Linked DNA regions of Homo sapiens. The protein of the gene in region 1 interacts with the protein of each later gene in a pairwise test. Each region holds a gene or a part of one and is shown in the gene's direction. Other genes may lie near its edges.

Evidence for each region.
Region 2: the proteins of CHN1 (region 1) and HEMK1 interact in binary tests that used the Homo sapiens proteins (3 or more experiments, as listed by UniProt).
Region 3: the proteins of CHN1 (region 1) and ANKK1 interact in binary tests that used the Homo sapiens proteins (3 or more experiments, as listed by UniProt).
Region 4: the proteins of CHN1 (region 1) and CDK5R2 interact in a two-hybrid assay, tested with the Homo sapiens proteins (one study listed by IntAct).

Annotation. Positions count from the first base shown.
Region 1 is NC_000002.12:175,001,936-175,010,613, reverse strand, and holds the start of CHN1 (N-chimaerin), read left to right. Parts: upstream 1-5,232; 5' UTR 5,233-5,701; coding exon 5,702-5,720; intron 5,721-8,678. UniProt on the Homo sapiens protein: GTPase-activating protein for p21-rac and a phorbol ester receptor. Involved in the assembly of neuronal locomotor circuits as a direct effector of EPHA4 in axon guidance.
Region 2 is NC_000003.12:50,592,619-50,597,165, forward strand, and holds the end of HEMK1 (MTRF1L release factor glutamine methyltransferase), read left to right. Parts: 3' UTR 1-3,548; downstream 3,549-4,547. UniProt on the Homo sapiens protein: N5-glutamine methyltransferase responsible for the methylation of the glutamine residue in the universally conserved GGQ motif of the mitochondrial translation release factors MTRF1, MTRF1L, MRPL58/ICT1 and MTRFR.
Region 3 is NC_000011.10:113,382,396-113,391,689, forward strand, and holds the start of ANKK1 (ankyrin repeat and protein kinase domain-containing protein 1), read left to right. Parts: upstream 1-5,383; 5' UTR 5,384-5,489; coding exon 5,490-5,674; intron 5,675-5,680; exon of another isoform or gene 5,681-7,994; intron 7,995-9,294.
Region 4 is NC_000002.12:218,954,604-218,963,332, forward strand, and holds CDK5R2 (cyclin-dependent kinase 5 activator 2), read left to right. Parts: upstream 1-5,062; 5' UTR 5,063-5,217; coding exon 5,218-6,321; 3' UTR 6,322-7,552; downstream 7,553-8,729. UniProt on the Homo sapiens protein: Activator of CDK5/TPKII.

The DNA of each region.
Region 1 (8,678 bases):
AAATTTAAAAAACTAGAACCTGTGTCTTTTAGAATATTCTAACCTAGGGTTTACAGTAATATCTGTGGTTTTATTGCCTATTGAACTAAGAGTTCCTCTTGGTGCTGAGCAATGAACAAGAACTCCATTCTCCTGGTTCTGATTTTCAATTCCAATTTCCCCTCCCTTCACACCCACACACACACACACACACACACACACACACAGCTTCTACAAACACATTTTCTTTTTACTTCGGAAGTGATATAATAAGAGCTGAGCAGTGTTTCCTCAGTAATAATCCAATTCCTAATCTGCGCCTAGCCAGATGATAGCCACCTCTCATTTTAGCATATTTTTGGTGACTATCTTCTGCTACTATAGCAAGCACTGTGTAGGGGAACTGAGAAAGTTTTAAATTCTTAAGGTTTCTTATGTATTTCTCAAATTGAGTTTTACTTCATTTCTAAGGCCCAATATTACTATTATAATTTAGGCACCCTCTGGTGGTGAACAGAACACAAATAATTCTCCTAAACATTGAGTTATTTAAGCTTAACGGGCAATTTTACAGTTTATGACATAAATATTATTTTTGTCATAAATAGTGTTATGGTCTAAATCCTTATGTTTGAGGCAAGTGCTGCCTTAGTTACTTGTGTGCATATGTCTTTGTCCTGTGAAAGTGCTATTTGTAAATCATGGAATGCCACACAAATATCAGGTAAGTTATTAATTCAGAAAGTCTGAGATAAAAAACAAGAAGGGGGGTAAAAAATAATCGGAATTAAGTGTTTAAGGAAAACGTTGTTAAAAACAAACCAAATAGTCTAGGCGCGGTGGCTCATGCCTGTAATCCCAGCACTTTGGGAGGCCAAGGCAGGTGGATCACTTGAGGTCAGGAGTTCAAGACCAGCCTGGTCAACATGGTGAAACCAATTTCTACTAAAAAATACAAAAAGTTAACCAGGTGTGGTGGCTCATGCCTGTAATCCCAGCTACTCAGGAGGCTGAGGCAGGAGAATCACTTGAACCTGGGAGGCAGAGATTGCAGTCAGCTCTGAGATTACTGCACTCCAGCCTGGGTGACACAGTGAAACTCCGTCTAAAAAAAAAAAAACAAAAAACCAAACAGACCAAATAGCTGGATACAGTGGCTCATGCCTGCAATCACAGCACTTTGGGGAGGCTGAGAGGAGTGGATTGCTTGAGCTCAGGAGTTCCAGACCAGCCTGGGCAACATGGCAAACCCTGTCTCTACTAAAAATACAAAAATTAGCCGAGTGTGGTGGCATGCACCTGTGGTTCCAGCTACTCCAGAGGCTGGGGTAGGAGGATTGCTAGAGCCCACGAACTCAAGGCTGCAGGGAGCTGAGATTGTGCCACTGCATTCCAGCCTGGGTGACAGAGTGAGACCCTGTCTCAAAACAAAAACAAATCCACTTTAAACAAATTCACACAGTGGAAACAAACACTGTAACTAGTAACATAAATATGGGATAGAGAGAATGTCACATATTGTGAATATTTAAATAATTTTAACTTTCTTAATTTTAACTTTAGCAGAAGTATACTGTGTAACATTTTTCTCTTCACTAGCAAACTTCTGCACTATTTTGGGAACTGTGCTAATAGCACTGGTATTCCTAGTGTTTAAAGCTGTGTTGACATGACAAAGTACTATAATTTTAACTTGTTATTGTGAGGCAGAAACCGCCTCATTAATTTCTGCTTCATTGAAAACTGAGGAACAAATCAATGTTTACCAATGGGAATGAAGCTAAATGGGTAACAAAAAGAAATTCAAAACACTTGTGATAAGTCATTAGTTTAAAATGTAGGAAAACCATTTTAAAGGGTTGTCTAGGTTCTGTTTAGTCAACAAAACTTAAATAAAAATGAGAAATTGTTTTAGTAAATTTGAAATGGGTTGTTCAGTGCACACTTTTAATTTTAATCCTGTTAAACCAGAAAAAGGTTGCTTTCTACATGATTAATATAACATTATTAGTACAACACATTGCAGAAGAAATAGCAGTACCACTGGTTTGACAAAATATGACTTCTTTATTACATTAGGTATTTATGAACTTTAGATATAACAGCACTTTAAATATATTGAAGATTCAAATAAAAATGTCCTCTGTTTTATCCATAAACCAGTTAATTTAAAGATTTTAAAATATCACACAATGACAGATAAACCTAAAAGGGACATTAGAGATACCTTAGTACCATCCTTTCATTTTACAAAGGAGGAAGATAAGAACTAGAAACAGTAAAACATTTGTCTAAAAATCTGACAGCTAGTTAGTAACGAATAAACAAATCTGGCTCTTCTAAGCACTTGCATGTTAAGCACAAAATGAAATCATTGAATGAAAACATAAATATTTTGAGAAGTCAATTCATTCTTTGCCCTTCTTTTATAAACAATCTAAGTCACCACCCGTAATAATCACCTCCAAGCAGTTAACGCCCTTCCTTGCATTGACTCTGTAGCTGAAAGGCTGTGGCTTTATTTTCAGCTAAGTGAGAAAAGAAGCACATGCAATAGAATAGGAATAGCTCATTGAAAAAAATACGCTATTTTAAAAGCCAATACTATTTCCAAGACAGGCACTTTGATCAAGTATAGAGAGCATTTTGTTAGAGCATCAAACCATTTGGAAGTCAGTTGAAAGGAATGGCTCGTGGAAAGCAGGATGCTTTAAAGGGAAACATAGCAACATTCACACTGTTTTGTTCCAAATTGTACCTTAAAAACAGCTGTGTGTGTGTGTGTGTACGTGGGTGTGCGAGTAGAAAGGGGAGAGGAAAAGGATCTTCACTTGAGTTTAAGCAGGGTATTTCACTAGGATTCAGTTGTATTTGGCCAAACTAGTGAGTGGAAAGCTGGTCTAGTAACCAAAGGCCGGCTGTATGATGGGAGGGTAAATCTGAGTGCAGGGCAGCTCCTTTCTCTCTGTCTCACTCCCAGGACAACCCCTCAAGGGATGGAGAGAGCTACTAGCAAGCTGAGCTGCAGCACCAAAACCTTGATGCTCTAACAGAGCTTAACAAAGAGGAGAGAAAGGCATTGTTTCTCTTTTAGCATGATGGGACACATAGTTCTGAGTAGAAGGGCATGTTAATAAAAACTCTTTGAGACAAAATGCAACTTCCCAAACTCTATGCAGAATGGCTAAGGACAAAATACTCTCGTTATTTTGCTTCTAATACTAAACAGATTTTTCTTTTGAAATTCAAACCATGCAACCTCTAAATTGATGCGGGATGTGGGTAGGGAAGGTGGTCGGTGAGAACACCAGAAATCTAAGATTTTCCCATTGGTTCTGCTACTAAATAGGTGAACACATTTGGGAAAATCTTTTTACGGGGAACTCAATTTTTTTACCTATAAATCATGGGAGTTTTGGTCTTTTCCTATTCAAAATTCAATGGTTCTATTCTGAAGGAAAATATTTTCCTTTAAATTATAAAGGCAAAAACTTTCTGAGATTACAAAAAACACTTCCAGGGGCTCACCTAAGGTCCCTGAATAGCCCATAATCCCCTTGAAATTATGTGAAAAATTTCCGGTGAATGTGTGTATGTATGCAAGCACTTTTCTAAGAGGAGGGACAGTATTTTCATTAGAGCCTCAAAAGGAAATTTGGTCCAAAAATGTTGAAGACCACTAGTTGAAACAGTAAATGGAGTCTTCGGTTTCTGATTTATTTGGCTGCAGAGCAGATTAGCAGCAATCTTTATATGGTTATAAAATCTATCCCACAAAGCTTTCTTGAGTTTCTCATTTATTTTCATGAGCTGTGTGTTTGTAATTTTTTATGAGCAGAAAGGTTGTTCAAAATCAAGAGTCCATTTTCATGAAAGATTTTAAATTCTGGGGATTTTAAAGATGTATTTTGATTAGTGGCTAAAGAGAGCCATTTTACATCACAAAATTCCAAACATATAGCATCTTAAACACTTGCCCATTCATGTTGAATCATTTTAATATTTCTTTCTTCCTGAGTTAACTGACTTGAAACAAAAGGCTTGGCTCCTCCTTCCAACCTGCTTTTCTTCTGATGCTTAAGTCTGCTTTGAAATAATGATGGTGAATTAACTGTGGTTCCATTGGAAGTACTGTAGTAATCTCCCACTTTATCAGGATTCGATCTCTAAGATACATTAAATACAAGATATTTCTATAATATTCTTAAAGAATTATTTGAAAATGGGAGAGAAGACACTAGGGAACCTGAGGAACTAAGAGGAAAGACGCCTGTAGAAAGAAAGGAGAACCAAAGAGAAGATCTACATGATCAGATACCAAAATAGTATCAAATCCCTAAGCAGAGAAACAAGAAAAAAGAAGGAATTTCTTAAACAGGGAACACATATAGCAACTAGAGAAGAATGACTTTTTGAATACATTAAACGACAACGACGAAAAACATATAACCCAGCTTTTCAAGAACATCTTTTGGCTGACAATCTCAAGGCGTTGTATGGCTCCTCATGGCAGAGACAGAGGTGAGGAGACAACATCACAGAAAGGAGGACGTTGCCAGTGATTATCAGATAAATACAAGAAGCTCAGGGGAACAATCTTTTGTGGCAAATAAGTGCCAGTCAGTGACACATGCTGATTTTTTTTTCCTTGAGACAATATCAAAGAGGTATAATGTAAAGGGAAGAAAATCAGGTGTAAGCATTGGTCTTTTAACAAATTATCTTAGGTAATCTCAGATGCTTTTTAAGCGACTCCTTTTCCTAATGTGTGTCAATTTCATCAGAACTACTAGCAGCTCCTAAGTCCAAACGGAGAGGAATGCAGCTTTCAGTGCCTCTGTTCCTACCAGAGCCCTGCAGCTTCAGGTCACCGGCTCCAGCCACAGTGAGCCTGGAGGGCGCCAGGAGAAGAAATATGTTCTCACACGCACCAGGTCCCCAGATGACCCTGCCTGGGCGCTGCGTTCACTCAGCATCCTCCTGTGACTCTTCCTCTTTCGAGTAACAGCGTTTTTCTCCTCTCTGCGCCTCCTCAAATTCCATTCAAGAAAAAACCTGGGCTTTCAGCTAAAACGCACACCGGCCCCGCTCCATCCCGCTCCGGGCGGCCGCCTCCAGGGGGGCGCTGGTGGCTCCTCGCAGCCGCGGGAATGAGGGCGCACCCTCTTACCCCCGCGCGCGCCCGTTGCCATGGGAACGCACTCGACCGGGAAGCCCGAGGGAGAGGCGGGAGGCAGCGGCGCGGCCGAGCTCGTGGGAGACGCTATCGCAAGATGGCGTCTGCGAGGCCGCGGGATGCGGAGTGAGCGCGCCCCGCCGGGGGCTGTGCGAGGCTGCTGCTGCTCTCCCCGTCGCCGCCGCCGCCGCCGCCAGTGCGGCGCCGCCTCTCCGCCAGCCACTGCGCCGCGGCCAAGCCTCCTGCCTCGCAGGTACCTCCTCCCGCGCGCACGCTCCGCGCCTGATGGCAGCGACAAGTGCCGGCTCGCGGAGAGCTAGCGGGGCTCCCTGGGCCCGGTGCGCCCGACAATAACGCGTGAATAACTTTTTCTTGCAGCGGTCCCCCGCGTCCCGGCCTGCAGCCTCCCCGGGCGCCGGCGCCCCCAGCACGCCCCATCGGGCACCCCACTCTCTCCGAGGTGTGGGTGCGGCGGGCTGATGAGGTGATCCCTAGCCCGCCTGGGAGGAGCGCCTGGACTCGCGGGCGGCGGCGAGCGCCTTTACAATGGCCCTGACCCTGTTTGGTAAGTGCAGCCGTCTCCCCGCGCCGCCGCAGGTGGGCCGCGTCCCGGGGCTCGGGGGCGGGGGCCTGGGGGGCCTGGGCGCCCGGGGAGGGGGCGCGGCGCGTGGGGTCGGGGCGGGCCGGGGCCGCAGAGTTGGGGCGCCCGGGGCGCCGGCTTGCTCCCTCGCGCCTCTCCCATTGTTTCCTCTCCCGGCAGGGCCGATGGGCGTGTGCTCCCCTGGCCAATTCTCGGCTGGGAGGCTCAGAGGTCCTGGGTGTTTTGCAAACGCACAAAGATTCTCTAAGATGCCAACTTGGGAGTGAAGTTAACTGGTTGTTTTCAAACCTGCCTTTCCCGTCGGTAAATAAATCCTTGGAAAGTTTATTTATTTTGAACGAGGTATCTGTGAGTCCCCAGCCTCCTTGGAATTGCCAAATGCATGTGTTGCTTCCTGTTGGACTATTGGGGAATTTTTTTTTTGGACTCAGTATATTCCGTTGGAAATAAGTATGATTTGTGAACTGAATATGGGTTAAAATTGAAAATGTTTGCACTAACGAATGAGAGCAGACAGAATAAAGTTGGTTACCAGAAGATAACTGTAATCTCAGGAGACTGAGTATTCATTAAGAATGAAATGTTATTTTTGTGGTGTAATTACTGCAGCACTGTTGCTTTTGGTGGTTAAGACTTCAAGCTGTTTTTTTCTCAGTCTGCAATGACAATGGGTTGGGAAAAAGGACTGAAAAGATACATTCTTTCCTTTTACAAAACGACTATGGTACATACGTACCTGACTTTAAGAAAACTCAATATGTGAACATTAGACGTTCAAAGTATTCAGCTTTTTTGAAGAAGCAAAGTACAATGATATGTAATTGATAGCTACGAGAACAGCCTAAGTAAGTTATTCACAATATCAAGTTTCCAGTTCAGTTTTAATTATGTCATTTGATCAAACACGTTAGAGGTGTTACATACCTCAAATGCTTTTTGAGGTAAATACTTCCCAGTGAATTAAGCTGCTAGAATCAAAGTGTTACTTTTATTTAACTATCTTATTTTATAAATTAAACTTAGACCCAGAGAGGTTGTTTCCCAAAGTCACATGGCTCTTTTGTGGCAAAACTGAGCCTAGAATTCACTTCACCAGGCTTCAGTCTGGGACTGTGTTTACTGTGCCCAAGTGCATTACTAGAAGTGCCATTTCTTACTTGGTGATGATCCTCCATAGGTACTTTAAAAAAGTGTCTTCTTTTTCTGAAAAATAATAAAATTCTCGCTGTTTCTCAGTACCTTGTATCTAAGCATTATTTAATAGCAGCATTTTCCTTAAATGTGGACCTTTTTGGTACAAACATTTTCTTTCCTAAAGAGATATTTGGCATTTTCAAGGTGTGGTTTCAGAAGTAAGGTTTACAAGTCAACTTTTCAAATACTCGCATTCCTGACGAATAAAAAAGATAAATTGGGGTGAAAAATGCTCTTTTAAAAGGATTTCTAAATTCTAAATCTTTAACCACTGTGGTGAAGATGAGGAAGGGAAAAGCATGGAATGTGGCCTATAGAAGAAAGTATAAGAAATCACTCCCAGCCTTCAAAATGAATAATGTATCTTTAAAATTTTAAAGTCTACTTATGGGAAAATAGAATTCACTTCCCAAAATCCAGTTTGTTACAGTGTGAACGTTTCTGTGTTATAAAACAAAGCACTCTTGAGTGCAGAGGCTATTTGTTAAGTAGTGATAGAGCAGCAGCTGTTTTTAAAAGTGGTTGTACACCACTCATCAGTCATCTGGGATGTCTATTAAAAATGTAGATTCTTTTGCCCAAAGACATGGGGGAAGGGGATTTTAAAGTGACTCCCTTTGTGATTCTTATGCTCACTCAAGTTTGAGAACTGTTGTATTCAAGATAAATGCTAGGAGATTGGGTCAAACTCGCCCAATACAAAATAGCTTTTTGTGTATGTTGAGAGATGTACCTAAGGGTTAGAAGAAATGGATTTTATTTTAGATTTTACTACCTTTAACTAGTTGGTCTTAGTCAGAAGTGCCTCATGTCCCTTCATATTTACTCTTAATGACCAACTTAGAACAGAAGAGCAATGGAGCAATAAAGTTCTGTGAGATGGTAGTGAAAAGAGTTAGAGGCAGGGACCTAACCAGATCAACAGGATTTGTCAGAGCTCAGCAGAGTTTATACCTGAGGCTCCCCAGAGTAACGACTGCCAGGGCCCTATCTTTTGTATCTTGGTTGATTAGTTAGTGCAGTCCAGCAGTAGAGTCTAGACTAGTTATTTGCTTTGTGTTTTACATTTTCTTTCCATTCAGGCTTTTTATAAATTTAAGAAATGTTCTTTTTATAGGGAGTTGGTGACTTAGTTTTAAAAAGTGGAGCCTCTAACATTACCTGATTTTGTATTTGCATACATTTAATTTTTTTCACCTGTTAAGTATATTATAGGAACTCGAATACTTGTTAAATTAAGCTGAATAGTTAAGACTGTTTTATCTCTCATCCTCACTGTTAATCACCTTTGCTGCTTAACATATTTTTAATGCATATTAGTTTTATTTTGGGATAGAAGAACCAGACCCCAATCTTGAAAGATTTTACAGTCTCATTTGGGAATTGAAAATGTGCATTTTTGAAAGCTTAAGAATTTGCACCCGTTTTTCTTCTCCTTTCAAATGAACTCACATCTCATTATCAGCTTCGATATAGTTTTTAAATCCCCCAATTTCAAAAATTATCCAAATGTATTACAGACTCTGCTCGCTCACCTTGCTCATTTTTTCAGCAAACATCTGTCACAGCGTACAAGAGACATGGTCCTCTAGTGGCACTTCAGAGTCTTTTCTAGAACTATAGCGAATGCACCTAATTCACTAATTACCTAATTCCGTATAGTGAGTGGCACTTAACTATTAACTAATTCCGTATAGGCTTTGTGAGAACTTCCTTAGTAGAGAGCAC
Region 2 (4,547 bases), on another chromosome or scaffold:
TGGATGGAGGATCTTCGTAGCTGGGGCCACACCCAGGCCAGCCCAGCCCTTCAGACTCTGCCAGTCACAGTGGGGTGGGCCCTGGAGCTGGAAGAGGAAACAGAGCCTCTGCCAGAGTCACCACCTGCCCCCAACCCTACTTCTCCTCCGAAGGCCCAACAAGGTCCTGTGCGCCCTCCAAGGGCAGAGGAGGCTGCTGGCTGTGGCTGTGGGAGGAGACCTGGAGCACTGTGCCCGAGGCAAAGCTGGCCCCGTGGAGTTTGCTATTCCAGCTTTTATTTACTCCTCTGTACCCTGAGCACCATCAACTGGGTGCCAGGCCTGTGCCTATATTTGGCAGGGTGAGGGGTGGGGGCCAGACAAATTGTAGAGGAGCCTCAGGTCTTTGGGGTGTTGCCCCTCCACTACATGGCCCCAGACCAAGTTCTCTGCCAGTTTGCAGAGCTCTTCCCTTCCACTTGGTCTTGAGGAGGGGCCAGAGAGGCTGCCTTTACCCCATGAGCTCTGAACCCTCTCACTATCTGGCTGTCCCCTCATTCTCTCACCACCCACTCCCACTCCCGATGGGAGCCTCAGGCCTGGCTTAGGAACCCTGCCCACAGCTGTACTAATGCCCTTGGCTTTGCTATAGGGAAAGAACACAGCCACTCCACACTCTGGGACAGCCAGCTTGCGTCCATCCCCTAGTGCAGAGGGCTAGTTTAGGGAAGGACATTAGGACCCTGACTGTGCACCTGACTCAGGGGCCCCGGAGAAGATTTGGTGGGCTAAGGGTGGGCAGGAGAATACAACTCACAGCCAAGCGGAAGGTGGCTTTCAGCTCCCCCCTTCTCATTTTTTCTTACTGTGGCTGCACCAGGGCTGTGCCCCTCATGGAAGGTTCACTTTCCTGCTTATCTAGTCTCAGATGTTACAGTTTTTCTTGTTATGTATTATACAGAGAGATGGCCTAACTGGTTCTTGCTGCTGCATGGGCAAGCCATTAATTTACAGGGGTTTATCTTATAACTGGACACCTTTTTGTTTTCTCTTACAAGATGTGCTTGTTGTTGCTTCTCTTGGATTTTCTACATTGACATTTTACCACTGAAAATAATGACAATGACAAATTTGTCTTTTCCTTTCTTTCTTTTTTTTTTTTTTGAGACAAAGTGCCACTCTGTTGCCCAGACTGGAGTGCAGTGGCGCGATCTCCCAGGTTCAAGCGATTCTCTTGGCTCAGCCTCCCGAGTAGCTGGGATTACAGGCGTCCACCACCATGCCAGGCTAATTTTTTTTTTGTATTTTCAGTAGAGACGGGGTTTTGCCATGTTGGCCAGGCTGGTCTCGAACTCCTGACCTCAAGTGATCTGCCACCTCGGCCTCCCAAAATGCTGGGATTACAGGCCTGAGCCACCACACCCGGCCTGTCTTTTCCTTTTTAATACTTATGGCTCTTATTTATTTTCCTTGTTTAATAGCTTGGCTGAGACCTTCAATACAATATTGAAAAACTGTAACGACTAGAGCATTTGTATATTGTTTCTCACTTGGGGTGCCTCTGGTCCCTCCCTGTCAAGTGCACTTGCTATTGATTTTGGATAGATGGCCCTTTTCTACTTAAAAATGGTTCAGTCTAGTTCTGGCTGACTCTGATTTTTTGTTTATTTTAGAGGCTTTTTTTTTCATCTTTCATTCATGCAACAGACCTTCAGTGAGCTGATTGCCAGGACTACACTGTCATACTGTGGTACCAAAGAAAAATTGACACGGTCCCTACTCATAAGGAGTTCATGGCCTGGTGGAGGATACAGGCAGGCAAATAGATCCTTATCCTTAGGCCATGGGGCATGCATTCAGTCACCATCTGCTGGCACTGTGCCAGGCACAAGGAATGGGCACTATTCAGGCAGGCCCCCATCACAGTCTGGTGGGGTCCAAGCAGTTCACATCCCCTCTCACTCAAGTTCCCACAGAGTAGTTGCAATGGTGAGCTGAGGTTTTCTCTGCTGCAGAGGCCAGGTGGGTAAGTAACCAAAAGTGCCTGAGAGCTAATCCCCTGGAGCAGCCTGAAACCAAGGAAGACAGAGAGTTGGTAGACACATGCCCAGCTCCCTCACCCCTTGGGTGGGACAACCGTGGCTTGTGTTTTCTGCCAGCTCCCAACTGAAGACTGAGCCTCAGTTGCCTACAGAAGGAACCCACTCATAAACCCACCTACCTCCTTTGGCTTCCTTTCCTTCCCTGTCTCACCCCCTCTCCCATTTTATATCAATAAGTGTGAAGGCTGAGATTTTATCCGACTTTCTTTTTTTTTTTTTGAGACAGAGTCTCATTCTGTTGCCAGGCTGGAGTGCAGTGGCGTGATCTTGGCTTACTGCAACCTCTGCCTCCCAGGTTCAAACGATTCTCCTGCCTCAGGCTCCCGAGTACTGGGACTACAGGTGCGCACCACCACACCCAGCTATTTTGTATTTTTAGTAGAAACAGGGTTTCACCATGTTGGCCAGGATGGTCTCAATCTCTTGACCTCATGGTCTGCCCACCTCGGCCTCCCAAAGTGCTGGGATTACAGGAGTGAGCCACCGCGCCCGGCTTATCCGACTTTGAAGCAAACAAGTTAGTCTATCATAGTCTATCATATTCTCAAGGATCATGGCAGAAGGCACAGAACTCTGGGTTCAGAAACAGACAACAGATTATTGTTTACAGTAACGGCAGTAGACAGAGTAAAAGCATTTTCTTGCACCACTTCCCTGAACCGCAGTTCCTACAGAGTGATGTGATGATGGCCCGGTGATGCCTGCATATGCATTGGGTTGCACTACGGTGGAGAAACTGCATGCTGAATTTAGGGGACCCACGTCTTTTATAATAAGCTGCAAGCAAACCTGCCCAGGTGGGAGATGTTATCTTTAGTATACGGGACAATAAAATCTGCCTTTTGCTCTGGAGGGAGATACTACCTCTATCTTCTAAGGTTACTCACTATAATAATCACCCTTGTAAAGATTATTTAGAACAAGGGCAACCAGTGCCTCTACTGGCAAGTGTGCAGAAATAGGAGAGAACCATGGGGAATTGTCTCTCAATACCTTACTGGTGCTTCTTGGCATTACTTCCCAAATAATCTATTTGCATTTGGATGCTTGTCTCAGAGTGGTTTCTGCAGGAAAAAACCCAAGATAGAGAGACAACACTATATAGGCATCGATGTATTTCTGGGGTGACTCTCTTTCCTCCAGACCTCTCCTGCAAACAACGCAGGGGAGCCACGCAAAGGAAGAGGTTTCCACACCTGGGATTGATACTGCTGGGACTCCAGGGCAGGTGCTCTAAAGGACTCTTAGAATTTCATTTTTAATGTTTAATATTTGGTCCATCTAGAATTTATGGTGGAAGGTGTGAGGTAGACGTTGCACTTTTTTTTCCTTCCAAATTGCTCCAATATCACTTACTGGAAATTGTGCTTTGTCTGTTACCACTCTCTTCTAATCTGCCTGTGGCCTGTTCCTTAGAGTGTATCACAAACATACAAGTGATCAATTTCCAATAAATTGATTAAAGAATTCATGTGCATTCCCATTTTGTCAAACCACTGATTTGACACTCAGTGCTGATGCAGTGTGAGACAAACCCAAACACCCACTGTCATGATAGCACCGTTCAGGTTCTAGGGCAATGCATGGAGGTTGTGCTTTTGCTAACTGCAGAGCAAACACTACTTCAGCCTTCACAGAGAATTTAACTGTGAATAGTGAAGATTTCTTTTCTTCTCTCTGTTTCTTTTTGAGAAGAGTTTTGCTCTGTCACCCAGGCTGGAGTGTAGTGGCACAATCATGGCTCACTGCAGCCTCGAAATCCTGGGCTTAAGTGATCCTTTGGCCTCAGCCTCCCAAGTAGCTGAACTACAGACATGCACTGCCATGTGTGGCTAATTTTTAAAATATTTTTTGTAGAGAAAGGGTCTCACTATGTTGCCCAGATTGGTCTCAAACTCATGGACTCAAGCGATCCTCCCACTTTGGCCTCCCAAAGTGCTGGGATTACAAGTGTGAGCCACCACACTCTGCTAAGATTTCTTTTCATAAAAACATTTAGCAATATTTAATAACAATTTCAAAAAGTTAAGTAAAATTTTAGTTTTAAATCTTAATTTAAATTTTAATACAAGTATAACTTATAGTTTGTTTTGCCTCAATTTTACTAAGTGATTTTGATTATTTTAAAAATAACTTTTTAGGCTGGGTGTGGTGGCTAACGCCTGTAATCTCAGCACTTTGGGAGGCTGAAATGGGTGGATCGCTTGAGCTCAGGAGTTCAAGACCAGCCTGAGCAATGTGGTGAAACCCTATCTCTATAAAAAATACAAAAATTAGCCAGGTGTGCTGGTGGGTGCCTGTCGTCCCAGCTACTTGGGGAGGCCGAGGTGGGAGGATCCCTTGAGCCCAGGAGTTTGAGGTGTCACTGAGCTATGATCACACCACTGCGCTCTAGCCTGGGTGACACAGCAAGACCCCCCCGCCAAAAAAAATAATTAAAATTAAGGCCAGGCACAGTGGCTTACA
Region 3 (9,294 bases), on another chromosome or scaffold:
TCACAATCACCCAAGACCATAAAGAACCTGTGGCCATGATTTTGACAATGAGAACCATGGTTCATGAAACTCAGGGCTTCCATTTTTGGCTTCTTGACACTCAAGGTAGTTTTTCATCAAAAAGCCCTTCAAAAGAGAGACTGGTTTCCTTATTAGGAAGGAAAATCTATACTCTGCCAACTCCAGAAATTGAGTCTTAGAAGGAACTAGTTCGCTCCCTCTCTCCATCGTCTCCAGCCTCAGACATTTAACACAGTGGCCTTTCTCTTTCTCCTTGGGGTTTCTACGTGTCCACAGGGGGCCAGCTGTGTTCCTTAAGGCATTCTGTGGTAAATGTTAGATTACTGCCTTTCTCCTATTATGGGAATATTTTCCTTCCAAGAATATAACATTACCTAGTAATAAGGACAAGAACGAGAAATAGAAGGGGGAAGGAGAAGTAGGAGGAGGAAAAGGAGGAGGAGGAAAAGGAGGAGGAGGAAGAAGAGAAGAAGGGGGCTTTATTTGTATTTTTTAAATGTTCTGCTTGGAGATAATTACAGATAAGCACACAATTTTAAGAACTTATGCAGAGATACCCTCACCCAGTTTCCCCCAAAGGTAACATCTTATGTCACTATAGCACAACATTACAACCAGGAAATCAGTGATACAATCCATAGTCCTTACACAGGTGCCGTCAGTTTTACATGCACTCATTTGTGTGTGTGTGTGCATCTGTGTGTGCATTTAATTTGATGGAATTTTGTCACATGCATTGATTCATGTGGCCACCACCACAGTTAAGATACAGAATAGTTTCATCACAAGGTTCCTTTGCACTAACCTTTTACAGCTACACCCACCTGCCTCTCCCCCAATCTCACCTCTGACAACCACTAATCTGTTCTCCATCTCTATAATTTTGTCATTTTAAGAATGCAATATAAATGGAGTCATACAGTATGTAACCTTTTATGATTGGCTTTGTTCACTCAATAGAATTCTCTGGGGCCTCATCCAAGTGGCTGTGTATATCAGTAGTTGCTGAGTCCTATTCCATAATACAGCACTATGGTGTGTTTAGCCATTCATTGGTTGAAGGACATCTGAGCGGTTTCCAGATTTTAGCTATTGCAAATAAAGCTGCAATGAGCATTCATATACAGATTTTTGTGTGAACACTGTTTTCATTTCTCTGGGATAGATTCCCAAGAGTGCAATTGCTGGGTTGTATGGTAATCATATGTTTAGTCTTATAAGAAATGGCCAAATTCTTTTCTAGAATTGCCATACCATTTTACATTTCCACCAGCGTATGAGTGATCCCATTACTCTACATCCTCATCAGCATTTGGCGTTGCCACTATCTTTTCAGTTTTATTTTTAGCCATTCTGATAGGTAGTTAGTGATATCTTACTTGCATTGCTTAGTGGCTCATGATATTAAACATTTTTTCAAGAACTTATTTGTCATCTGTATATTCTCTTCAGAGAAATGTATTTTCCCATTTTCTAATTTGATGCTTTTTTAGCATTGAGTTTGAAGACCTCCTTATATACTCTATGAACCAGCACTTTGTCAAATATGTGCTTTACAAACATTTTCTCCCCATCTGCACTCTTCTCTTCACCTTCACCAGGTCTTTCACTGAGTGAGAGTTTTTCATTTTGATGAGGTTCAGTTTATCAATTTTCCCTTTTATGGATTGTGCCTGTGGGATTCGGCCTAAGAACTTTTCATCTAATCCTAGGTCCAGAATATTTTCTCCTTTTTTTTTCCTAAAATTTTTATAAGTTTACATTTAATATTTAAGTCCATGATTCATTTTGAGTTAATTTTTCAGGTGTGAAGTATCAGCTGGTTCATATTTTTTGCCTAGGAGTATTCCTAGTATATACCTAAGGAATGTAACCTTTAAAAATATACCTAGTATTTAGATATATTTTATGGATGATAATCATAATAACCATTCCAAAAGGTTGCTGTAAGAATTATAACCTTTAAAAATATCCTAGGTATATTAAACTAATATGATATTATATTGTATTTTTATGTTATATTAGTATAATATTATACTAATATACTAGGTATATTTTTAAAGGTTATAATTCTTATAGCAATGTTTTGGAATGGTTATTATGATTATCATCTATTTTACAGATGGAGAAACCCAGAAAGATTTGATAATGTGACCAAGGTTAAACAAATGCTAAGTGATAGAAAGAAGCCAGGGTTTAAATGCGGGTCTGACTGACTGACTCACTCCCACATTTAAACCCTGTTCCTATTGCCTCATTCAATCCCTTTCACTCTGGGAGTCCTGCTTCCTGAACAGATGTTCCACTTTCCTGCATACATTCCTTTATCCTGACCAACCTCAGTACACAAGCTACCAGAGGCTGGGGCCTGCCAGAACCTGTCCAGGGTTCTCCGTGACATGTTTGCAGGGTGGAGAACAGGGGCAGACTGGGAAACTTCCCTATATGCAAATAGCTTGTCATTCCGGTTTGGGGAAAGGCTCACATCAGATTTCAGCATCTTCTAAAGTATTGCAGAGCTCCTGTACCAGCTCACTTGTCTGGGAGGAGCAGGCTAAAAATCTTAGGTTCCCCAAAGACAATCACACATACACACAAAATTCATTTAATAACTCCAAATCCAGAACACTTCCATCTTCAATCTGCCCAAACAAAATGCACTGATAGAGGTTAGTTGGAAGGACTCAGAGCATTTTGGGGTAAAACTTCTATAGCTAGAACCTGTTCCTTGCCCCTTCTGGTGGGTGGGGGTCATAATTGGACTATAACCACTTCATTATCCATTCCCATTTGTAGGTAGATATGGGTAAAGGTAGAGTTTCCCTCCCAACCCCCCAGCTCTCTCCCCTCCACACACTGGCTGCTGACTTCCCAACCAGCCAGGACCTAGGGACTTCTGCACTCAGACCACTGGAAAGAAACCAGCAGCCTCTGAGTTGACTTTACTCTTTTGCAAATCCCTATACCTCACCCCACTTTTAATGAGAGATCCAGGAGTTCTTTGCCTCTGTGACCTTATACTCAGAAAGGGTCCCTCCACTTACAACTTCTCCCAGAGCTTATCCAAAGACTACTAGGCCTTTGCCCTAGCCCATGTTAGACAGCTGTAAGGAGCAGGACAAGCCCAGTCAAATGATCCAGTCCCTCTGGGTCAATGAATGTATCTATTTTGACTGACTCCTCAGAAGCCTCAGGGGTGCTTGAACCCACAGCAGAGAGTTTCAACAGGTGGGTCAGCAGTAATACGCCCTGACCCTGCAGTTCCTCCACCTCCACCCCTGTGAGAAATTCAGAGGTATTTTGTTCGGGATTCTGGCAACATGCCTTGAGCCCTGGGTGTCCCCTCTTCTAGGAATGATGCTTTCTTCAGTATTCCTGTGACAGTCTCTGCAGGCAGACAATGGCAGCTTCTGGTTACTTCCTCTCCCTGGAGAGCCACTTCAGGTATAAGTGGATCAAGGGGAACTGCTGAAATGACTCAGGCCATTCACCCTTGGTATTTCCTCCAGGAGCTGAGATAGGTCTCGCTGAATGTCAAAGATCGGGCCTCAGTCAAACTTCCGCAGAGCTGGGTGGCTGGTCACCTTCCCAGTCTCCATGTTCACCCTCCCAGTAGAAGGTATGAAACATCCTCTTGACCTCCTGGTCTCCCTGATGACAATGTCCTTTATCACCTTCCAAACTTCTCTGGCAGAGGCTTTAAACTTGGGCAGGCAGGGCTACTCCAGAGACAATGGGTTCTGTTATGCCCTGTCTTGCTCCAGCCAAAGCAAGCTGGGGGCCTCCCTCTGACATATGTTTGGGGGATACGTCCTGCTCCTGATGCAGTTTCCATCATCTCCACCCTCTTCCAGGGAGCATGACTCTCTCTCTTCCTTTTTTGTATTCATAAAAGGCTACTCCCTGATCCTCCCCTGGCCAACCATTTCCATAGAAACTAAGAGACTTGAGTTTGAATATCAACTACCACTTACTAGCTATGTGTCCATTGATTACTTATTGTCTTGAAGCCAGTTTCCTCATCTGTGAATAGAAGATGTTGACCTCATAACATTGTTGCAAGATAAACAGGATAATATATGTAAAGCAATGCAGTAACTGAAATAGTCACTGATCCTGGAACAAAGTGAGTGTTCAATTAGTAGTGGCTATCACTAGTTTCTATGACAACTGTCTCCAGGCCCAATCTTTGATCCTTAATCTGCTTGCCAGAATTCATCCTGGAAGTTGCAGGTAAGTTGTTACAGAGGGAGCAAGTTCTCCAGCTTCCACAGGGAGTCTCTGTTTGCCTATCATGCCTACACTGTTCCCTGGGAGTCTGGTGGGCTTGTGGCATGGACGAGGGGCTCTGCAGGTTTGGGCTGAAGGCAAGGCACTTCCTTGTCTGGTAGGTAGGCTCCTCAAACCTAACAGTGATCACTCTGAGGGCTCCTTGTGGACTTACTCAGCTGTAGGCAAATAGTGGCTGACTCTGCACTCCGTGGCCACAGTTCCTCCAGGTATGCCTGTCTCTGGGCAATGGCCCACTTGGTCAGTGCCCCTGGGGAGACCTGTCTGTTCAAGCACTTGTCATTTTCCCTGCTCTGAGGGTCTCCAAGGTGAGAGGGCAATCCCATGGACCCAGGACCCAGGGGAACCTCCAAGCTCAGCACTGGTCAGGCTCCAGCTAGAGCCTCCTCTCATCCCTGGCAACAAACTGCCCCTAGTAACTGCGCCAAGGAGGCCACCTCCCCCGTGGCCACCCCGAGGCTGGGGTCCATCCCTCTGAGGTTGGATAGAGCGCAGCCCAGGAAGGGAGTCCCCTGCAGACAGGAGCCCAGCCTCCCCCGCAACTCTGTCCCTGCTGACCCCTCCTTGGTAACCTATAGCACACCAAGGCTGGCTAACAAACAAACAAACAAAACCCCAACAAGAACAAAGGAAACATGAAACCAGTCAGACCAACAGATTCAGACCAGAAAATCCCCATTAAAATTGTTTGAGCCCCATACTTGCTGGATAGGGGCAGGGGTCCAGGCCTGAATCCTTCATAAACCATAAAACCTTGAATGCACTGAAGGAATGCATAAACCGATTTCACTTAGCGCTGGGCCTAAATAAACTGGATCCAACTTCTCAGGCTGGACTTCTTCCAGCTTCGGGACACCTTCTCCCAGCATCCCTCCCTAGGGGGAACTGGGGAAAATCAAAGGCTGAGACAGGGGAAATGCGAGGGCTTCGGAGGGACATACCCTCTTCCCCAGGCCCAGGTCGCTCCATCCCTGCTGGGGCCTCAGGGCTCATGTCTGGGATTTCCCCACCTTTGCGGGGCAGGAGCGGCTCCTCTTGGGCGGGGAAGGAGGCAGGGCCGGCTCGTCTCCCCATTCCCCTCTCCCGGACCCGAGGAGCAGGAAGCGGCGGCTCCTTCGGCCACCCAGGCAGCAGCCACAGCGGGGAGTGCGCGGCGCGGGGACAGGAAGAGAGGGGCAATGGCTGCCGACCCCACCGAGCTGCGGCTGGGCAGCCTCCCCGTCTTCACCCGCGACGACTTCGAGGGCGACTGGCGCCTAGTGGCCAGCGGCGGCTTCAGCCAGGTGTTCCAGGCGCGGCACAGGCGCTGGCGGACGGAGTACGCCATCAAGTGCGCCCCCTGCCTTCCACCCGACGCCGCCAGGTACTGCCAGCCTCGCCCTCCCCTTTCTCGGAGGAGAAACTGAGGCCCGGCAAGCTTTGGGCCCAGGGAGCTTGCGAGGAAGGAGTGGGCTGAGTTTGGGGCTGAGGACTGTCCCCCGCGGTATTTCTGAATTCCACCCAGTAGCCTGAGCCTCCCAGGCACACCCATACCTGTCTCCCTAACCAAAATAGAGTTGGCACATAATACCTGTTTGTAGACTCAACAGAGGTCAAAGGCAAGCGGGAACTACCTACCAAAGACGCCTTTATCCCATCTGACCTTCCGAACTTGTCCTGCCTGCTTCCATCCTTCTCTCCAGCGCCTTCTTCCCCCGGTGTCCTGTGGCAATAACTGCTCTTGACCGCTCTCTGCCATCCTCCTACCCACCCCAGCTCTCAGGGCAGGGCTGAGCATCCTGGGAGGCTGTGGCACTTTGCTCAGATCTGCAGGGAATCATGTTCTCTCTTCCCACGGTGGCGGGAGGGAGGAGGCCCCTCCCAATCAGTGCAGGCTGAGGAGGTCAGGGGATGGAGACTGCCCGGCCTGATGGCCTGTCCAGGCCCTTGGAGGGTCAAGTCTGGAGTTCTCTCATCTCTGTTTTTGTTTTTGTCCCTTGCTGTCATGCGCACTACAGCGACGCCTTGACATGCCCCTATTTTTCTCTTCCTACCTCTTTCCTACGTTTCCATTATTCTCTGTCTTCCCACTGATTTGGAATCCAGTCTCATTCCCACTGGAGTTGCATATACTAGCTGTGTGCTTGCACCTTGCAGCCATGAAGAAGACACTCGGGATGTTAAACCTGAGCATGATAACCATGTCCTCCTCCCAAGGCTCTGGGACATCAATTAGAGAGTCCGGGACGGGGGTCTCTCTGACTGGCATCTGGCTTGGATGCTATCTGTGGTTCTCTAGGATTACCATGCAAACTCTTAAGATACAGCCTCAGGTGCCACACACTCAGTTCCCAGGCCTTCCCCCACCTTATGAGGAGAGGAAAAATAAGATCGCCTAAGGCCCACTCACCTTCCTCCCTCAACATCTGCCTGTTGGTTTTGGAGGAGGGTCAGAGTATGCTAGGATTTGTCTAAATCATTTATAGCCTTTTGAATATAGAACGAAAGGAAACAGATGGCAGTGACATGATTACACTGTGAGACATTGATGCTAACTCCTGCCACTTTCCCTTCCCAAGTTCTGGGAATTCCCTGGGTGGAGGGGGTAAGATAATTAATGGTAATTAAGACTTAGTATGTATGGATTACTATACTAGGAGCTTTACGTGCATTACTTTACTAGATCCTCTTTCCAGCTATTCATTCATTCATCCACTTGACAAATGCTTACTGCTCTTCTACTATGTGTCAGGCACTGTTCTACACCCTGGGATTAACGATGAATGCAACAGATGTGTCCTTTCTCTCCGGGAGATTGCAGCCTAGGGGGAGGAAGACATTAACCAGATAACCCCACATGTAAATGTAAATGTGCTACTGTGAGAAGCTTAAGAAGGGGAGATTTGTGGCTCTAGGAGAGCTCATTAACAGAAAGTTTGACTGATATCAGAAAAGGCTTCCTTGAAGAAGTTACACTACAGCTGAAATGTGAAGAATGAGTATAAGTTAAGTAGGTGAGGAGGAGAAAGTTTTCCAAGAACAGACAACAGAGTGTGCAAAGAATCTGTGGCAAGAGGGGCATGGTAAGTACAAAGATGGGAAAAGGCCATGATGGCTGGAGTTGGGAGAGTAAAAGAGCAGTGGAAAACCACTGAGCATTTACAACCAGGTAGCGGTGGTGACCATGGGAGGGATTAATCAGAATTGCAGTATGGAGAATGCATTGGGAGGGGTAGAGTGGATTCTGGTTAAGTTAGGAGATTGTTATCTTCATTCTGATGAGAGACGGATAATAGGGGCTAGAGTGGAGTGTTGGTAGTGGAGATAGGAAAGGAATGGGTCAAGCCATATTTAGAAGGTAAAAATCCACCCGACTTGGTGCTGGATTAGTCATGGGGAGGATCACGATGAGGAAGAGGGGTATTAAAGCTAACTTGATGTCTGGCTTGCCCAAAGGAATGGAGGATCCACTAAAATGTCCACTCCATGAGAGTGTCTGTTTTGGTCACAGCTCTGTCTCCTGTGCCTGGCACAGAGTTGGTGTTCAATAAATATTTATTGAATGGCAGTGTTGACAATTAATGGAGAGACTATGAAAAGAGGCCTAGACTTGGAGAGGAAGATCATGAGTTCAGCTTTGTACCTGTTGAGTTTCAGATGCCTTTAAACAACCAAGAAGAGTTGTCATGGACATCAGAGTAAAGGTTGGTGCTAACAATATTAAAACTTGGGAGTCATTTGTTATAAGTGGTCATTAAAACTAGGGCATCAGGCTGGGCCTGGTGGCTCACGCTTGTAATCCCAGCACTTTGAGAGGCCAAGGCTGGTGGATCACCTGAGGTCAGGCAAGACCAGCCTGACCAATATGGTGAAACTCCATCTCTACTAAAAATACATAAATTAGCTGGGCGTGGTGGTGGGCACCTGTAGTCCCAGCTACTCAGGAGGTTGAGATAGGAGAATTGCTTGAACCCAGGAGGCAGAGGTTGCAGTGAGCCAAGATCATGCCATTGCACTCCAGCCTGGGCAACAAAAGTGAGACTTGGTCTCAAAAAAAAAAAAAAACAAAGCAAAAAAAAGGCATGGAGGAGATGCATTCATTCCAAGCACTACGTGAAAAAAACAAAGTCCTTGCCCTCATGAAGCTTATAGTCTAAAGGAGGAAGACAAAATAAATAGCAAATGAATAATAAACTTTTTAGCTATAGCACTCATGACCACCTGACAGTTCTTGATTAAAATATCTAAGAAGGGTTGAGAAGTCTGATTTTCCAAGAAATGGGTTGGTCTAAAAATATTAATGCCAGGGCCCTCTGTGTATGGGGAATATAAGAGTTGGAATGGGGTTGCTTTTTTATGTAGACTTCTCTGTGAAATCCATACTAATTAGGTACCATTTGAGTAGAGATTTGAAGGAAATGAAGGGGTAATCCATGTGGCTCTGTTAGGGAGGAGTGTTCTAGGCAGAGAGAACAACAGGTGCAAAGGTCCTGAGGTGGGACCACACTGGGCATGGTGGAGGAACAGTGGGAAGCCCGTGTGCCAGGGGCACAATGAGAGGAGGGTGATTAGGAAAGGAGGTCAGCAAGCTATGCCTGGCATTGGGGACAAATCTTGTAGGACTTTCTCAGCCATGAAAGAACTTTGGCTTTTACTGTGAATGAGGAGAGCCATTGGAGAAGGGCAGTGACATGTTGTGACTTAGATTTTAAAATATGACTTTGGCTGCTGGGTTGAGAATAGATTGTGGAGAGGAAGCGGGAGAAACAGAGTCCAATTAGGAGGCTTGGGCTGAGATGCACCTTGGGGGAGAGGTGGTGAGAAGTGGTCAGCTTGTTGCTCGACAGTATTTTGAAGGTGGTGCTGGCAGGATTTGCGAAGACTTGGCTGTGGGAAGTGAGAGGAAGAAAGGAGTCGAAGATGACACCAGGGTCCTATTCTGAGGACTAGAAGGACAGAGGCCCCATTCACTGAAATGATGAAAACTAAAGGAAGAGCAGGTTT
Region 4 (8,729 bases), about 44 Mb from region 1:
GAGGCCTGGACTCCAGGGTTCAGCCGCTTTCAGGAGGCAGCTTCTGAAACTCTAGGGCCCCTGAGTGATTCCTGTAAATCAAGATAAGAAAGGCCTTCATGGTGGTGAATACAGTCTGGGGACTGAGTACCATGCAGGGGTTGCTGGGGGCAGATGAAAGAAGAGGGCCTGGGGGCAGAGAGGAGAGGGCTGTGTTCCACTCTAGGGAGCATCTGAGCTAGAGTTCTCGAAGGCCCTTCTTTCCCCGCAGAGCCTCCAGTGAGGTTTGCACACCTTCCTGGGGCTATGCCTGATAGGCAGAGGAAACCTTCCATCTAGGGCACAAGGGTGGGAAGGCTGGACTCTCAGAGGGTCTGTGTTCATCGATGAAATCAATATAGAGGAGGAAGGGACAGGATAAGGGATATGGAACCAGATGAAGACCCAGTCACAGTGGCAGTTTCTGGCAGCCACCTGCCTGGTTGAGATGGAAACGCTGATTCCAGCTCCAGCCCCCAGACAGGCTAAGAATATCCCAGAAAAGCAACAGCTACCACCCCCACCCTTCTTGATCTGCTCCTACATCTGTAGTGCTATGCTGGGCGCCAGCGGGGCCTGGGAGGAGAAGGAGTGGGGGACGAAAGGGAGGAGGCAAAAAGGGGGCTTGGTGGAGGCAGAAGGTGAACCAAGACTTAAAGCTTCTGGTGAGTGCTGGGAGGACTGGACAGAGAGAGCTGTTCTCAGGGGACAGTAAAGGAGGTGAAGGCAGGAGCCAGGGAGTTGGAGGGAGATCAGGACAGAGGATGGGAAAGGAAGAAATGGCCCCCCTTCCATCAAGGAAAGCAGCAGAGCTTAAGGCAGGGAAAAGGAGTCACCAGCTCACCCCTGTCTTCTCTGTCCCCTTCACCCTGGGCCCTCCAGCATCTCAGCATTGGTCCCTTCTCTCCCCACCCCAGAGCATCACATTCCTCATCTGTGCTCCCAGCCCTATTCACTGTTCAAAAGAAACTATATTTGGGCTCCTTAATTAAGTCCTTCTAGCAAACAGCCTGCGAAATGGGAAGACATGAGAATTTGGGTCTCCCTCCTGACAGCTAGCAGCACCTCCTCTGTCAATTCCTCTCTTCTCTCTGCTTACCCCCTCCCCCCTCCACTGTTATCTGTAGAGGGGTTCTGCTCCCCTCCTTTGTTTTAGCCACCCACTTCTCCCCTGGGGTAAGGTCCTCAGGAGAGGGAGAGAAGTCTGGGCTCGTGCATACCCACCCCCTCTGCACACCTCAGGAGCTGAGACTGATGGGCAAGGGAGTTGGGGGTGCCAGGGTGGGGGGGGGGGCAGCAGGATCCAGGCACTCAGATGCCCAGGCTGGGTCTCCATCCTGGCTGTTTTAAGAACCTGTGTCATCATTAGCCTCCTTGTAGGGGCCCCTACAGGGAGGTGCAATGACCTTGGTTTCTGGGGCCTTTGATGTTTACTGGGGATATCCTGGGCCTCAGCCATCTTGCCCTCCTCTTCTTTGCCTTCTCACCTTTCAGGGGCCCCTCTAAAGCTTGGAGGGACCTAGGGAGATTTACATTGCTGAGAGCCTAAGCTCCCCTCCCCTTCATCTCCTGGGGTGAACCGCAGAAGTGCAGGCCTCACATGGATGCTGTGCACACAAAGACTGAGCCCATCAGACAGAAACAGATTAGGGAGAAGCAGACAGGGCTGGAGCTGGAGAGTGAAACAGATTCACAGGACAGATTTTGTTTAGAATCAGAACTGTGGAGTTGAAAGAGGCTTTAGGAATCCTCCTCTAGTCCAATTCCTAAAATGTTATCTTGTTCTTTTAATATTCATTTTTATCTGATAATAAGAGTCAAATCCGTAGAACCCTTGCATTTTAATATGATGAAACCGAGTCCCAGAGAGCTGAAATTACTTCCCCAAGGTCATACAACTGGCAGCCATAGACTAGGACTCCCGTGTCCTGCCTCCCAGACTATGGCTTCTCAGAAGGGAGATAAGAAGAGCAAAAGGGAGGCAAAGTGTGAGCAGCATTGTCCGGAGATGTTCTCTTAAAAGATGGGGCCCACCTGCCCAGGTTGGGTGAGTGAGAGGAGCATCTCTGGTGAATCTGATGGGATGCACTCATCAATAAGGCCAGATCCTATCCAGGCTAAAACCTCAGTCTAGGCCCTCCAGTTCTTGGTCTGGGCCTAGAGTATTTGCCTTAAAGAACCTTCAGGAATAACCAGTAATCTGAATAGGCACTGTTCTAGGTAACCTACAGAGCAATGAAGACAGACAAGGAGACTGGCCTCAGGGGCTTTCCCATCTAAGGAAGTCTGACACAACCAGCACTGCCCCAGAGGAACATAAGGGAGATGGAGAGATGAGAAGCAACACAGAGATACTATTATAATGAAGATAGATGAATCTCAGAATATGAACCCAAACATAACCTAACCAGAAGAGTACACTTGCAAATGTGGGAAAGCCACCAACCTTCTATGAAGCCCACCTCCTCCATGAAGTCTTTCTGGTTTCACTAGGCTTATTCCCCTTGGGCTCCCCCTGCAGAAACATAATAACCCTCCCTCTCAGCTCTCAATGCCACCGGCTTATATACAACAGCAATGTTGTTACTCTTTCTGGATCTCTTTGATTAGCTTGTCTGCTTGTCTTTAAAATTCCATCCATATCCATCTTGCACATCTTAGACCCAGAGCCCAGCCCTTAACCAAGTTGTTATGTAGCCACTGTTGCTGATGGGAAAAGGCTGGAAAGGCTGAAGTCAGAAAGAGTATTAGGTCCCTTCCAATCTATCAAAAAAGCTTCTTGGAGGAGGTGGGAGTTCAAGAGCTTGACATTCTGAGAGAGGGTTCTGGCCCAGTGGAAGGAGCTCAGAGATTCTGGAGAGATAACCAGAGCAGGAGGGTGGGGAGCATGTGAGCCAGAAACAGGGTTGGAGGCAGAGCAAGGTGGAAAGTGAGGAAGGGGAGTAGGACCCTCTGAGGCACCTGCTTTGGGGTCCCTGAAGCAGAGGAGGAAATTCTTGGTTCTGACCAAGAGGACAATAGGAGGTCAGAGCTGGGCCGGGAATAGGGTACCACAGTGGTGACACTCTGTGGGTGCTGCTTAGAAGACGTGGTCCTAAATGACCTTAACAATAGGCCTTATGCCAGTGAGGGACTCCTGGGAGCAGCGCTGGAAGGACTCATGTGCCATTTAGATCCACATGCCCAGTGTTTCCGCCAGTGCAACTCAGTCTCTACAGGGCTTGTCCTTAACTACCGGTGAACTGACTATTCCTTGGTTGGCAGATAAAGAGTGACTCAGAACACCTTGTAGGAGGAAGTGGGGCCAATTACAGGAGCTGAAAAGAGGGAACACTTTCAAGAACTATGAGGAGAATGAGTTTGGGAAGGTCAGCTTGGGCTGCAAGAAAATAAAGATCAGATCCTAGGGAGCAGAGATACCCTGTTGAAAAAGTGCATATTGGGTGCTGAGTTAGGGAGAAGGTACAAGGCTGCATGTGCACAGTGGTAAAGAGGAGGGGAATGGAGACAGGCAGACCACAGGCCTCCAGGAGGGTGTGAGTGACCAGGGGCTGTGGAATGGCTGGGAAATTCTGTACCTCTGGTAGCTGGAACTGCAGCCCAAGTGGATTCTAGAACAGCCTATCTGCAGTGACACACACACACACATATATGCACAAACCAACCCTGACAGCAGTGGATCCTTGGAGCTATGTTTGCGGTCTGTGAGGAGCATGGAGGTGACTCCAAGGGCAATCCTTAGAATTTACTGAAATACATAGGCAGGGGTTTGGCTCCACATGGAACCCATATGCACCTACAAGGTCCACTTACTTAAGAAGCCTGAAGGCTCTTGTGCTGGGGGAGCCACAGAGAGCAGGCTCCAAGAAGGGTGGACATGATCTAACAAGGCAGATAGAATAGGTCCAGAACTAGCTGTGCTCAAGACCTGCAGGTAAGGCCTGGGGAGTCCAAAATCCAGGGCAAAGGGCTGATGGGTACTCAGGAGGTAACAGACAGACCCAGAGAGAAGTGGACAGGACCCAGCCTAACAGCTTGCTCCTGGGAGTGGGGACAGCTGGAACCTTACCTGCAGGAAGCATTTAATGATGAAACCCACCTCAACCTGGACCCAGGGCTGGGCTGGAGGTTGGTCCAACCCTCTTGGGCTTCCGTCCACACAGGAGGCTCCGTTCACTATCCAAGACTGGGTAGACCAAGTGATCCAATTTCTAGCGTTTCCCCAGGGACCAACCTTATCCATCATCCACCCAAGTATGAGATCTGTGTGTGTTAGTGGGGACAACCAACCGAGAGGAGCTGCCCAGGGACCAGAGCCAAGGGTCTGCCCCACAGGCTCAGTTGCAGAGAATCAGGACGGCAAGCAGAAGCCTCAGGGGCATATTTGAGACCTTGCTGCTCCCCCTCTCCCCCTCAAGCTGGAACCCCCAAGAAGGCGGGTTGTGACCTGCAAGAAGGCTCTGCCAGGACTCCCAAACAGGCAGGGCAGAAATGTGCCTGCTGCAGCCCCCCTAGCGACCTGGGGGGTGGGGGGCGAGGTGGGGTCGCGAAGAGGAAACAGACCTGACAGTCACATTGGAGGAGCCAGTGCAACGCGACCCATCTGGGACCTGGGCATCCGGTGAGGGCACTCACTGCTCACACTGGCCCCCCACACAAATTCAAAGGCAGAGGGAAGGAGAGCTGTTCCCATGGTTTATCTGCTACCGCGACCCAGTGCATCAGAACAAGCTGGTCCAGGCCCTAGGATCCGGAGGAGGCAGGAGCAGCCACCACCCCTTCTCAACTCTGACCCTGAGGAGGCCACTCGAACGACGACCACCGCCTTCCCCTTCCTCCGCTCGGGGGAAGGGAAAAGACTCAGGGCGGAGGGTGGGGATTGGGGCGGGACTTGAAATTGAAGTGCGAGAGTCTATTGGTCATTGGAGCTGCCCATCAGGAGTGCAACTCGGGAGCGGATTGGCCGCGTGAGGCGGGGCACGGCGCGACGAAAAAAGGGGCCCAAGGGGTGGGGCTGACGCTGCAGCTGGCGCAGCTCAGGATTAGAGCAGCGGAGCCGCCTAGCAGCCACCTTCCCCCGCCAGTCCGCGCGCCCGGGCCGGGGCTAGGCCCCCCACCGCCGGGTCCCCCGGGGCTGCAGTAGCAGCGGCGCCGCCCGCGGCTCCCGCTGGGGCCTGGGCGCCGGCCCCGCTCTGCAGGATGGGCACAGTGCTGTCTCTTTCGCCTGCCTCCTCGGCCAAGGGCCGGAGGCCCGGCGGGCTGCCCGAGGAGAAGAAGAAGGCGCCGCCCGCGGGGGACGAGGCGCTGGGGGGCTACGGGGCGCCGCCAGTGGGCAAGGGCGGCAAAGGCGAGAGCCGACTCAAGCGGCCGTCCGTGCTCATCTCGGCGCTCACCTGGAAGCGCCTGGTGGCCGCGTCCGCCAAGAAGAAGAAAGGCAGCAAGAAGGTGACACCCAAGCCGGCATCCACGGGCCCCGACCCCCTGGTCCAGCAACGCAACCGCGAGAACCTTCTCCGCAAGGGCCGGGATCCCCCCGACGGCGGCGGCACCGCCAAGCCCCTGGCGGTGCCAGTGCCCACCGTGCCCGCGGCTGCCGCCACCTGCGAGCCACCGTCGGGGGGCAGCGCGGCCGCTCAGCCGCCGGGCTCGGGCGGGGGAAAGCCTCCGCCGCCGCCTCCCCCAGCCCCGCAGGTGGCGCCGCCGGTGCCTGGCGGCTCGCCGCGGCGGGTCATCGTGCAGGCGTCCACCGGCGAGCTGCTGCGCTGTCTGGGCGACTTCGTGTGCCGACGCTGCTATCGCCTCAAGGAGCTGAGCCCGGGCGAGCTGGTGGGCTGGTTCCGCGGTGTGGACCGCTCGCTGCTGCTGCAGGGCTGGCAAGACCAGGCCTTCATTACGCCTGCAAACCTGGTGTTCGTGTACCTGCTGTGCCGCGAGTCGCTGCGTGGGGACGAGCTGGCGTCGGCCGCCGAGCTGCAGGCCGCCTTCCTCACCTGCCTCTACCTCGCCTACTCCTACATGGGCAACGAGATCTCCTACCCACTCAAGCCCTTCCTCGTGGAGCCCGACAAGGAGCGCTTCTGGCAGCGCTGCCTGCGCCTCATCCAGCGGCTCAGCCCGCAGATGCTGCGGCTCAACGCCGACCCCCACTTCTTCACGCAGGTCTTTCAAGACCTCAAGAACGAGGGCGAGGCCGCCGCCAGCGGCGGGGGCCCACCGAGCGGGGGCGCGCCCGCCGCCTCCTCGGCCGCCAGGGACAGCTGCGCGGCCGGAACCAAGCACTGGACTATGAACCTGGACCGCTAGGGATACCCAGGGGCCGCGCCCATCCCCCGCCCCAGCCCCTGACACACACTCGGACCCCCCGGGACCACAAAGCCACCGCCGCTGTTACCGCCGCTCAGCGCCCCGGCTGGGCGGAGGAGGAGACGCCCATGCCCCTCAGGGGAAAGTGGAGACCGGGACACCAGAGGCCGCGGTGTTTGGATTTGCTGGGCGTGGAGTGGGGACGGAAGATGAGCGCGGGAAAGGCACTCCAACCTCACTCTTCCCGTCTGTCTGCGCCCCCATTTCTCCATTTCTGCCGGGGTCTCCCCCTTCCCTTCAGCCCATTCCCCCTCGGTTTTATCCATTTCCTTGCCTCCTTTTTGTGTCTTCATTTTTCCTCCTGTCTGCATTCCTCTCTCTCTCTCTCCCTCTCTCTCCTGTTCCTCTCTTTCTTCCTCCCTCTCCCTGCCTTTCCATTTTCCGTTCCTTGGGTTTGTGTGTCTGCATCTCCATCTTACCCCTTGCCTGACTGTACCCCGTAGACCCCTGTTTCTCCTCCTGCACCTGTGTCCCCATCTGCCCTTCTTGTTGCTCCTGTCATGTGTCACCATCTTCCCTCCTGTCTGCCTTCTTCCTCCACTTGTGTCAGCTTGCATTTTTTTATTCCTGACTGAGTCACCACACCCCTCTCCCCTGATCAAAGGGAATATTAGTTTTTAATTTGGATCGACTGAGGTGCCAGGAGAAACTGCAGTCCCAGGTATCCAGACAGCCACCAGGATGGTCCCTCGCCCCACCCCCACCGCCTCTCCCCACCTTTTCCAACGTGTTGCATGCTGGGAGCTGGGGGGTGTGGGGGAAGGGGCTGCCGGCTTCTTTCAGGAGGCTGAGGTTTGGAGGCAAAATCAACCTGGGAGACCACCCCGGCCGCGGCGCCTCAGTGGACAGGTGGGAGGAAAAGAAAACTTCTTACCTTGGAGGAGGGACATCCCGCTTCCTTATCCTTAGCTTTTTTGTTGCTCCTCCCCACTGCCCCTTTTAATTTATTTGGTTGTTTGCGGAGGGAGGGGGGAGGGGGGTAGGCTGGGCCGGGAACTGTCCGAGGTGCTGAGCTGGGGCGGGACCGGAATCCTCCCGGTAGGGTACCAGGGACTGAGTTGGGCCTGGGGCCGTGTCCAAGGTGCCAATGATGCGGGCCGACAGAGCGGGCCGCACTGTCTGTCTGTCCGTCTGTCCCGGAAAGAACTATAAAGCGCTGGAAGCGCCTGCAGATGGTTTTGCGCCGGTCTTTCTTTGGGCCCCGGGAGGGAGGGAGTGGGAGTGGTAATGGAACTGTCACAGACAGAGCAGAAAGGCAAGAGATGGGGCTCTAGTAGGGGAGATCAAGTACCTGAGAACTTCTCCTCCTCCCCATCCCCACCCCCGCCATCGGCTTCCATTTTACAGAGAGTAAAGAGTAAAGCGAGGCAGCTGAGGGTGAGGCCTGGTGATAAAGCTGAATCCATCCCCCCACTTCCGCCTCCATCTTGTCTGACCTAGCTCCTCATTAATGCCCGGGCCACTTAGAGACCGAATCATGGGGACAGCGGAGTTGTGCCCTTTCTGTGATGAGACCCATTGAGGCAGAACTAGCTAGTCCTTATTGCTATTTTTCCCTTCCTCCCCATCTCTCCCCACCATATATCGGTCAAGAGTACAGTCGGGCCTAAGTCTGTGTTCACCACTCCCAAGTGGGGCCTGTCTGCCATACTTCTCTCCTCATCCCCCAACCACCATGGGGCTGCTTCGACGATGCCCAGGTCGCACGCCCACTCAGGAGTCTTGGGGGGTCCATCCCTGCTTGAGACTCAGACCCTTGCCCTTTATCCCCAAGAAGGGGCAAACAAGGGCAGTTGGGGAGAAGGAAGCCATTCTCTGGGATTGAAACAGGAAGGAAAATGCGCTATTTAGCCTGAGATCCCTGCTCGGTCCCCATTGCCTTCTTAGCCACGTGGCTAAGCGCCCTGTTCACTGTTTCATTGGCCCAAAGAGGCCTGGCTTCAACAGAGTGCCCGCGGCTCCGACCCTAGTCTGGCCGTGGCCGAGAAGATCCGGAAAGAACCCGGGGGGACCTGCCAAGACGAGGCCCGGGTTCGCTGTCCGTGGTGCTGAATGGCGCGCTCGGGCGGGGTCGGGGCTTGTAAGGGCAGGAAGAGTTGCAGACTCGGCCTCAACTAGGTCTTCCGGATAATTTGGGAATAGGGTGTCATCTATTCTGGCGGCGAGTTATAGAAGTCTGGCTCCAGAACCCAAAAATGTCGGTCCCCACTTGCCCTCCCGGGACGACAGGACTCGATTCCCCTGGCCTCAGCCCAGCGCCCTTGTAACCTGCCTGGAGCCGGAAATCCCCAGTCCAGATTTGTGAATTGAGTTCCCGGAGGGAGGGGGAGAGCTGGCGGAAGGGAAGG